2 separate regions of the Homo sapiens genome follow, and region 1 is linked to region 2. The links come from fine-mapping of genetic effects on gene expression. Tissue or cell type: whole blood. Region 2 holds a variant in brackets; the other region holds the start of a gene. All regions are shown on one strand. Distances are from middle to middle.

Region 1 (5,147 bases), 20 kb before region 2:
GTGAATGGGGCTGGCCTGTGGCACACAGTCTCAGCATCAGCAGCAGCCAGGAGCAGGGACAGACAATTCCCAGTCACTACTAAGAACACAGTCCTAGAGACAGGTGAGTGGGCCTGTTGGAAAATTCTTCCCCTTACTGTTTGAGACAGGAAAAAACCACACTGTTTTTACTACTCTCACACCCAAAGGAGAATCCCTCACCTTTAGTGATCAAAATGTGTCTGTGGTTGTTCCTACACTGACCAGTTAAACTGAGTAAAATTACAGAACACCCAGGTGCTGTCTGACGAAGAACTGCTTGTTGGTGACAAGTAATTCCCATATTACTTTGGTGACCAGAGATGAGGCATTCTGTGTTGAGCGCTCTTTATTGTGTTCACTGTGAACACAAAAACACACTGGTTTTTCCTAACTTATACACTCACACCCTAGTCCATCCCAAGAAAAGAGAAGAGTGCCTTATAAATAGTGTTCCAATTCTCATCTTCATGTGTGGTTTTTTGTTTTTTGTTTTTTGAGATGGAGTCTTGCTCTGTCACCTAACCTGGAGTGCAGTGACACGATCTCGGCTCACTGCAACCTCTGCCTCCCAGGATTAAGCGATTCTCCTGCCTCAGCCTCCAGAGTAGCTGGGATTACAGGCGCAGGCCATCAGGCCCAGCTAATTTTTGTATTTTTACTAGAGATGGGTTTCACATGTTGGCCAGGCTGGTCTCAACTCCTGACCTCAAGTGATCCGCTCACCTCAGCTTCCCAAAGTACTGGGATTACACGTGTGAGCCACAGCTCCTAGCCTCATGTGTTCTAAACAAATTTTATATTATAGAAAAATTAATATGTCACAATTCAATCATAATTTCCAATCAACTCACCACTCATCTGTAACCAGGGTCCCCCTCTTTCCTCACTACTGTTTCCCTGCCTCATTCTGTACATATCTCTCATTCTCATCTTTTTTCCTAGCTCTTTTTTTCTCTATTTTCCCCTAGGATTCTGTTCATTTTGAGTCCCTCCTCTTCTCTTTGTCCCATTCTTCCCTCTATTCCTTCTCTCCCACCTGTTCTGATCCATTTTTACAACTTGTTTCACCTCTTATTCCTCTTTCTGCCCAATCTTTCATTGTCCCTAATCTCCATATATTTCTGCCTCTTTCCTCCCACATCTCAGCTCCCCTTGGGGTCTCCCTGTTAAATTCCATCTTCGATATTACACACCCCTGTCCCCACTCTCTGGCACCCTTAGATCCCAGGCCTCCCCCTGCTGTGGTTCTCCCTGTTCTCCTTGTGACCAGCTGCCCCCTCTGGCTGTCCCAGCACCACGCTGCTCTGTCTGACCTGGCTCCAAATCCCTCCTCCTCTCCCCCCTCTGTCTGAGAAGCCTTCCCTATCTTGTTGAATTTCGTCTTTCTACAGACCCAGGTTTGTCTATATTTTTACAGTTACTTTTCTCCCCTGCTATTTTCTCGGCACCTTCTTTCACTGTGCCTCTGCAAACCCCTCACTCACCTTCTACTTTGCCTTCTGTTAATGGGTCTCTCATTCTTCATTTCTCTTTCAAAATTTCTCTATTTCCTCTGCCTCGTTCCCATCTCTTTTTCTCCACACATTCACAGGGAGGGGATTGGAATAAGATGCCCACTTCCGGAAGAGCTCATTTTCTGTGGGCTGGAAACTGGCTCGAGAGAACACTGGATGTCAGGAGACTGAAGTCACCCCCCACACTCGGGGTCAGGAGAACCGGTGGCTGGAAAAGGGAGGCCTGGGGAACAGAGGGTCCAGATTAAGGAGCAAAAAGGCAGGAGTGGGTCAGGAGAGGGGTGGAGTCTGCAGAAACCAGGTCTGGGCAGAGGACGAGGCCTCTCGTGCCCTGTTGGGGCGCTGAGCTCTAGGGGCAAAGAAGGGCGAGGCTAGGGGAACGGAGAGTGAGGATTTTACGTGGTGCGGGGCGTGTGTAGGGGTTACTAAAGGATTTGAAGCAGGTAAACCCCACGATAGGAGGTGTCTACGTGGGTAAATGACAAAAAGACCGGGCACACGACCAGCCTCCAAGCGATTTTAACACGCAGAAAGCGACTCCCAGACTCTCAAAGGATGTCTGAATTTACTCGGGGTGGAGGGAGCGGTGCCGGGATTTCAAGGTCTGCATGCCCCTCAGCTCCCGGGTATAGAAGCAGAGAAGAACTGGCTAGCCTAGACTTAACATAGACAAAGGGAAACTCACGCACTGCTGCGAAAACAGTTTCTCCCTGCAATCGGCTTCCGGGTCTACCGGAAACTGCGCTCTAGGCGTTCGCCCCCCGCGGTCCGCTTCCGGGTTTGCACGAAATTGCGCGCGCATCCTAGAGGCCGGACTGGCTGGGACCAGGGCGGGCCGGGACAAAGCCTGGGCCGGGCCTGCGCTTCCGTTCGCTTGACTGGCTGCGCTTGTTTTCAGGGTTTTGGTCTGAAAACGGATCTTACCTGCGCAGAGCAAAATCGGTTGTAGATTATATCCACGAAAATTCCTTCTATTAAAATGAATTTCAAGTCCCACCTACCCTGGAAGCAGAAAGAGAGAGAAGAGAGAGAGTAAAGAGAAAGAGAAAAGAAAGAGAAGTTGAAAAAGAGAAAGAAAACCAAGAAAGAAAGAGAAAAAAACCGAAAATAAATGGACAAGAAAGAAAAGTAAGGAGGGAAGGGAAGGGAGGAAGGGAAGGGAAGCTTTAGGAATTGAATTAACACACTTTGGAATTGTCTGTGAAGGGGATGATGCAAGCTAAAATGTGAAATGCAAAACCCTGCCAGGGTAGAATGTTCTATTTCATGCCAGTGCCCATAGAAGATAAATACTTTTCATTTATCTTCCCCATTCACTCTAGACGGTGAAGGTCAACCCTGTGCTCAATTCCAGAGACTTTCCTAGGGACATCGTGTTGGGCATGGAGGACTAAGGCCAGTGTGAAGATAAGTCACCGATTCTTTAAAAAAAAAAAGCCAGTAACTTATAAAAATAGCCATAAACGACGTAGTTTTTTGTTGTTGTTGTTGTTTTGAGACAGCGTCTCCCTCTGTCCCCCAGGCGGGAGTACAGTGGCAGGCACTCAGCTCACTGTAACCTCCGCCTCCTGGGTTCAAGTGATTCTCTTGCCCCAGCCTCCAGAGTAGCCACCACGCCCGGTCCAACTTAGTTTTTTAATACTTTTTAAAATTTTAAGACAGGGTCTCTGCCACCGAGGCTGAAATGCAGTGGCGCAATCATAGCTCACTGCAACCTTGACTTCCTGGGGTCCTGGGCAGGTGACCCCCTGTCTCAGCCTGCCGAGTAGCTGTGAGTAAAGGCCTGTGCCTCTCCACTGTGCTAATTTTCTACTGTTTGTTGCTTTGTTTTTAATAGAGATGTAGTCTGGTTTTGTTGCCCAGGCTGGTCTCCAGCTTCTAGCCTCAAGCAGTCTTCCCATCTGCTCCTACCAAAGTGCTCGGATTATAGGCATGAATCACCTTGCATGGGAGATAAGGACCCCCACATCAAGCCCTCAGGTTATTTTTGAAACACAAATACATAAGGCCCACAAGCAGGCCCATTGGCTGCAGACAGTGGGGTCACCTGAAGAACTTTTCTTTGATCTGAGTACCAACTTCTCACCTAGGTCACTGGGATCCTGGACTACGGCACTGCTCCAGGCAGGCCTGGTTATCCTGCTTGAGGCAGCAATCCTCTTGAGCCTAGTGAAATGCAACTGGCTGTACCTCAATGATGTTGCCCTGAGATTCTGCCAGTCGAGGTATTACTTCAATCTCCTGAGACCAGCCTCTACCTCCAGATCCAGGGAGGTCAGTGCACATGTAAATGGACTAGCTTTATTAAAGGGGATATCTGGGCCAGGCGTGGTGGCTCACGCCTGTAATCCCAATACTTTGGGAGGCCGAGGAGGGCAGATCACCTGAGGTCGGGAATTAGAGACCAGCCTGGTTAACATGGTGAAACGAAGTCTCTACTAAAAATACAAAAAAAAAAAAAAAAAAAATTAGCCAGGCATGGTGGCACACGCCTGTAGTCCCAGCTACTCGAGAGGCTGAGACACAAGAATTGCTTGAATCTGGGAGGTGGAGGTGCAGTAAGCCAAGATTGCGCCACTGCACTCCAGCCTGGGAGACAGAGCGAGACTCCGTCTCAAAAAATATAAAAATAAAAGGGATATCTGGATTGGCGGAGAGACTGCAGGACAGCATTCAAGTGGGGTTGAATTGGCCCAGTTGCATCTGACTTCTCACTTGTAGTTCCCAAGAATGAATATAGAATGTGCTGGAAAAGCAACATCCTGAGAGGAAGGGACCGGTGAGAAAAGGACAGGATGTGTTCCAGATCCCCAGAACAGGATCCCCTTTGTTGCTTTAGGCCAACGTGCCATGCATCCCTGGAGCATGAAACCCAGGATGGGCCGCCTTCCAGCCTCCCACAGCTGTGATGCAAGTTGAACACATACAGAGAGACTGCATCTGCACTGGGTGGTTTTCCTGAGCCTTGGGGAGCAGAATGCATGAATCCCAGGTATCTGCCGATCTGTATGTAACAAATTCACTTCATGTAACTTACTGTGTGTCCGTGAGATTATCTCTCACTCAACTCAGACACATTGGCAACCAGTGTGCAGTGAACCTGCTTCACAAGCAAGGATGTGGAGAAACTATTTTCGTACATTTTGTGGGAATCTGAAATACTGCGGTCAGTATGGAAAGCAGTATCATGGGAAACTTCCTCAACTCAAGATCACCTACCAATCCTTACAGAATCAGAATCATCATACAAACTGGTGAAAGCATAGTTTCCCCTAGAGGTTGGGATGAGGGCAAGAATGTCCCCTCTTATCACTACTATTCCACACAATATGAAAGGTTCCAGCCAGTGAAATAAAGGAAAAAGAAATAAAAGTGACAGGCTGGGTGTGGTGTCTGAGGCCTGTAATCACAGTGCTTTGGGAGGCTGAGGAAGGAGGGTGGCCTGAGGACAGGACAAAAAAAATAGTGTACCAACAGAAAATATGTTGGTTGTGCAGGCTAATACCTTTCCCAAAGGAAGGTAGCTACATCCCTATGACCTGTGTTACTGGATATATCAAAAGGGAGTTTGCAAATGTGGTCTAGATAAGGATCTTTAGATAGACATCCTGA
Region 2 (5,147 bases):
TGGGAAGAGCAGTTCTGCCCTCAAAGTCAAGGATGCAGCGACCTAAAACTGCACCACTGCCATCTAGCCTGGGCAGCAGAGTGAAACCCTGTCTCTAAAAAAATTAAAAATGAGGCCAGGCGCGGAGGCTCACGCCTGTAATCCTAGCACTTGGGGAGGCCGATGCAGAAGAATTGCTTGAATCCAGGAAGCGAAGGTTGCAGTGAGCCGAGATCGCGGCATTGCACTCCAGCCTGGGTGACAGAGCGAGACTCTATCAAAAAAAAAAAAAGAAAAATGAAAATAAATTCCCAATTTATACATTCTAATAAACGTAACTGACAAAAATATTATTTAATATCTTAATCAGGTAAAGGAAAGGAAAAGAAATATTTATACTACCCATTCCAAAACTCCTGGAGTGTATATAAGTGTTACATAAACTCCTAGGCAAAAAATAAAATAAAATAAAGGTCCTCAAAAATATATAAATCAATGGCCATTCCCTGATACAACATCCCCACACATATAAAACAAAGAAGACAAAGAGTACCATATGGAACTGTTGACTAAATACAAATAAGTTCATTTATTTTTTATTTTCTTCTTATTTTTTTTTCTGAGACAGGGTATCACTCTGTACTAAGGCTGGAGTTCAGTGACGCCATCATGGCTGGCTGCTGCCTTGACCTCCTGGGCTCAGGTGATTCTCCCACCTCAGCCTCCTGAGTAGCTAGGACTACAGGTGTGCACCACCACAGCCAAATTTTTATATGTTTTGTAGAGACAAGTTCTTGCCATGTTGTCCAGGCTGGTCTCAAACTCCTGGGCTCAATCAATCCACTAACCTCAGCCTCCCAAAGTGCTAGGATTACAAGTGTGAGCCACTGTGCCTGGCCCCAAGTTCATTTCTAATACATGGAAAGGCCCAAAATAAAATCAGCAGTGGCTTTAGTCTTATAACCAGATGTATCATTCTAGTGAGCTATTCTGTCACGAGGACTCGGGCATCCAATAAAGGATCTTTCTTTTTTTTTTTTTTTTTTTTTGAGACAGAGTCCCGCTCTGTCACCAGGCCAGAGTGCAGTGGCACGATCTTGGCTCACTGCAACCTCCACCTCCCGGGTTGAAGCGATTCTCCTGCCTCAGCCTCCCGAGTAGCTGGGACTACAGGCATGCACCACCACACCCAGCTAATTTTTTTTTATATTCTTAGTAGAGACGGGGTTTCACCATGTTGGCCAGGATGGTTTCGATCCCCTGACTTTCTGATCCGCCTGCCCTAGCCTCCCAAAGTGCTGGGATTACAGGCGTGAGACACCGCCCCGGCCTAAAGGATCCTTCTGTCAACTGTCTTTCCCATTCTGCTGAGTAAAAATCTCAGAAGAGCCACCTACTCCCGTTACACACACCACTAAAGTATGGACAAAGCACAACTGAAGAATGGCTGAGGAACCTTGTAAAATAAGAAATGCATACATTGGTCTCTTCGTTGGCTCCTGACACAGAGCTCCTAACTCCTTGGAATGTTCTGGGTGATAGGAATGTGATTTGTTCTAATGAGGCAACCTCTGTAGGTTCCCTGGACTGGGCTGATCATCAGAAAGACCAGGCCATGATTACAAGCATGAAAGTGTCAGCCCTATCCACTATCCTCCAGGAAGGGAAGAGGGGCTGGAGACTGAGATAATATCAATCACACCTATGTGATGAAGCCTCCATAAAAAATCCCTGAACTAGAAGAATCACTTGAACCAGGAGGCGGAGATTGCAGTGAGCTGAGATTGTGCCACTTCACTACAGCCTGTGACAGAGCAAGACTCTGTCTAAAAAAAATAAAAAATAAAAAATAATCCCTGAACTATGGGGTCACGAGATCTTCCAAATGCTGAAGACACACAGGTGCCTGGAGGGTGGCACACCCAGTGAATCTTCCCACGTGCCTCCCCCTGTGAATCTCCTCATCCGGCTCTTCATCTGTATCCTTCAAAACATCCTTCAGCGTGAGGCAGTGAACCTAAGAAAGTGTTTTACTGAGTTCTGTGGGCCACCCTAGCAAAGTAATCAACCCCAAGAAGGGGCTTGAGGGAACCCCAACCTGTAGCTGGTTGGTAAGAAGGAAAGGTGACAACCTGCTACTTGTGATTGGTTGCTGAGGTAGGGGACGTGTTTGGGAACTCA[G/A]CCCTTTGCCTGTGGGATCTGACTCTAATTCCAGATACATAATATCAGAAAGGCATCATAGAAAACTATTAGATGGCCACTGAAAAACTGGTTGTTGGTGCGTAGAAATCCCCACCCATTCGGTTGACCAGAAGTGAAGCGCTCTCTGCTGAGTGGCATTTGAGAGTAGAAAAAACACTGGATTTTCCCTATCTCCACAAGACCTCAAGAGGCAAAGAGGGGTTGAGACGCCTTCATGCAATCTTTGAGCCCCACATGCAAAAAAAAAAGAGCAGCCAATGTTTTCCTATCTTCTGATGAGGTCTTCCTCATATAGGAAATTGTGTGGACCATACACAGGTCAAGGAGGCAGGTCTATGCAGACCCCAGGTTTGATGTATAAACTTAGCATCAGATAAAATCACTACAGAAACAGAGACCATGGGAAAAAGAGACCCCTTTGACACAGCCCTCCCTATGTCCTTCAGAATGATGGAATCAAAGAATTCTCATAAGCCATATGACAGGGTGTTGTCCATCATGATAAAGACTTTGCCTATGACACAGCAAAAGAAATAATCGGCAGAGTAAACAGACAACCCACAGCATGGGAGAAAATCTTTGCAAACTATGTATCTGACAAAGGACTAATATCCAGAATCTACAAGGAACTCAAACAAATCAGCAAGAAAAAAACAAACAATCCTATCAAAAAGTGGGCTAAGGGCCGGGCACAGTCTCTCACCCCTATAATCCCAGCATTTTGGGAGCCCAAGGCGGGTGGATCACCTGAGGTGAATAGTTTGAGACCATCCTGGCCAACATAATGAAACCCCGTCTCTACTAAAAATACAAAAATTAGCTGGGCTTGGCAGTGGGTACCTGTAATCCCAGCTACTCAGGAGGCTGAGGCAGGAGAATTGCTTGAACTCGGGAGGTGGAGGTTGCAGGGGGCCGAGATCATGCCATTGCACTCCAGCCTGGGCGACAGAGCAAGACGCTGTCTCAAAAAAAAAAAAAAAAAAGGGGGGGGGGGGGCGGTGCTAAGGACATGAATAGACAATTGTCAAAAGAAAATACAGAAATGGCCAACAAACATATGAAGAAAGACTCCACATCACTAATTATCAGAGAAATGCAAATTAAAACTATAATATAATACCCTCTTACTCCTGCAAGAATGGCCATAATCAAAAAATCAAAACATACTACATGTTGGTGTGGATGTGGTGAAAGGGACCACTTTACACTGCTGGTGGGAATGGAAACTAGTACAACCACTATGGAGAACAGCGGGGAGATTCCTTAAAGGACTAAAAGTAGATCTACCATTTGATCCAGCAAAACCACTCCTGGGTATCTACCCAGAGGAAAAGAAGTCATTATACAAAAGAGACACTTCCACACACGTTTATAGCAGCACAATTCACAAATGCAAAAATAGAGAACCAGCTCAAATGCCCATCAATCAACAAATGGATAAAGAAAATGTGGCATACTAATATGGAATGCTATTCAGCCATAAAATGGAACGAAATAATGGCATTTGCAGCAACCTGGATAGAATTGAAGGCCATTATTCTAAATGAACTAACTCACTTAGGCAGGCCAGGTGGGAAGAATAGTTGAGGCCAGGAGTTCAAGACAAGCCTGGGCAACCTAGTGAGACCTCATCTCCACAGAACATTTTTTAAAAATTAGCAAGATGCAATGGCACATGCCTACAGTCCCAGTGACTTGGCAGGCAGAGCAAGATGATCATATGAGCCCAAAGCCTGAGGGAAAACCAAACATTGTATGTTCTCACTCATAAGTGGGAGTTAAACTGGGAGGATGCAAAGGCGATACAATGGACTTTGGGGTCTTGGGGGAAAAGGTGGGAGGGGGGTGAGGGATAAAAGACTATATATTGAATGTAGCGTACAATGCTCGGGTGATGGGTGCACCAAAATCTCAGAAACCACCACTAAAGAACTTATCTACGTAACCAAATGCCACTTGTTCCCCAAAACCCTATTGAAATAATTATAATAATAACATTATGCCCGGGAGCAGTGGCTCATGTTTGTAATCCCAGCACTTTGGGAGGCCAAGGTGGGTGGATCACTTGAGGCCAGGAGTTCGAGACCAGCTTGGTCAACATGGTGAAACCCCGTTTCCACTAAAAATACAAAAAAAAAATTAGCCAGGCTTGGTGGTGCACGCCTGTAATCCCAGCTACTTGGGAGCCTGAAGCATGAGAATGGCTTGAAATTGAGAGGCAGAGGTTGCAGTAAGCCAGGATCGTGCCACTGCCCTCCAGCCTGGGCGACAGAGCAAGACTCTGTCTCAAAAAAATAAATTAATAAAAATAAATTAAAAATTAAAAAAAAAAAACCAATACTAGTTTGGGTAACACAGTGAGACTCCATCTCAAAAACAAACAAGCAAACAAACAAAACGCCAAAAACAAAGAACACAGCAGCAGTAAGAGGGGGCAAAGAAAAATTTCCCTTCTAGGCCAGGCATGGTGGGTCATGCCTGCAATCCAAGCACGTTGGCAGGCCAGGTGGGAAGAATAGTTGAGGCCAGGAGTTCAAGACAAGCCTGTGCAACCTAGTGAGACCTCATCTCCACAAAAGATTTTTTAAAAATTAGCAAGATGCAATGGCACATGCCTACAGTCCCAGTGACTTGGCAGGCAGAGGTGAGATGATCATATGAGCCCAAAGACTGAGGGTACACGGGCTACGATCACACCACCACTACACTCCAGCCTGGGCAACAGAGCAAGAACTTGTCTCAACAAAACAAGACAAAACAAACTTCAATCAGAACTCACAGGATTTAAACTTTTATTTTCCCAAAGAATTCTCTCACTTGCAGAGAGCTCCCAAACAGAAACTCAAAGTGTGGTTTTGCAGGGTACAGTGGCTCATGCTTGTAATCCCACCACTTTCGGAAGCAGAGGAAGGAGGATCACTTGAGACCAGGAGTTTGAGGCTATGAGTTAAGCCACGATTGCCACT

Evidence for each region. PIP is the estimated chance that this variant, and not a neighbour inherited with it, causes the effect.
Region 1: ZNF528-AS1 starts here. The variant in region 2 is fine-mapped to the expression of ZNF528-AS1 in whole blood (TOPMed, PIP above 0.99).

What each region holds. Positions count from the first base shown.
Region 1 is chr19:52,394,978-52,400,124 of GRCh38, reverse strand. ZNF528-AS1 (ZNF528 antisense RNA 1) reads left to right here and starts at 2,368. Exons shown (of 7, transcript NR_125345.1): 1 at 2,368-2,663; 2 at 2,858-2,930; 3 at 3,373-3,515; 4 at 3,626-3,760; 5 at 4,375-4,527. It overlaps ZNF528 (zinc finger protein 528), which reads right to left and starts at 2,276. Exons shown (of 7, transcript NM_032423.3): 1 at 2,221-2,276; 2 at 1,506-1,758. It also overlaps a transcript of ZNF880 not described here. RefSeq lists an enhancer at 1,765-2,964.
Region 2 is chr19:52,374,527-52,379,673 of GRCh38, reverse strand. All of the region lies in intron 3 of ZNF880 (zinc finger protein 880), which reads right to left. Among named protein-coding and RNA genes, the nearest start is that of ZNF880, 7.2 kb to the right of the region's middle. The variant G/A (reference allele first, on the strand shown) is at 2,161.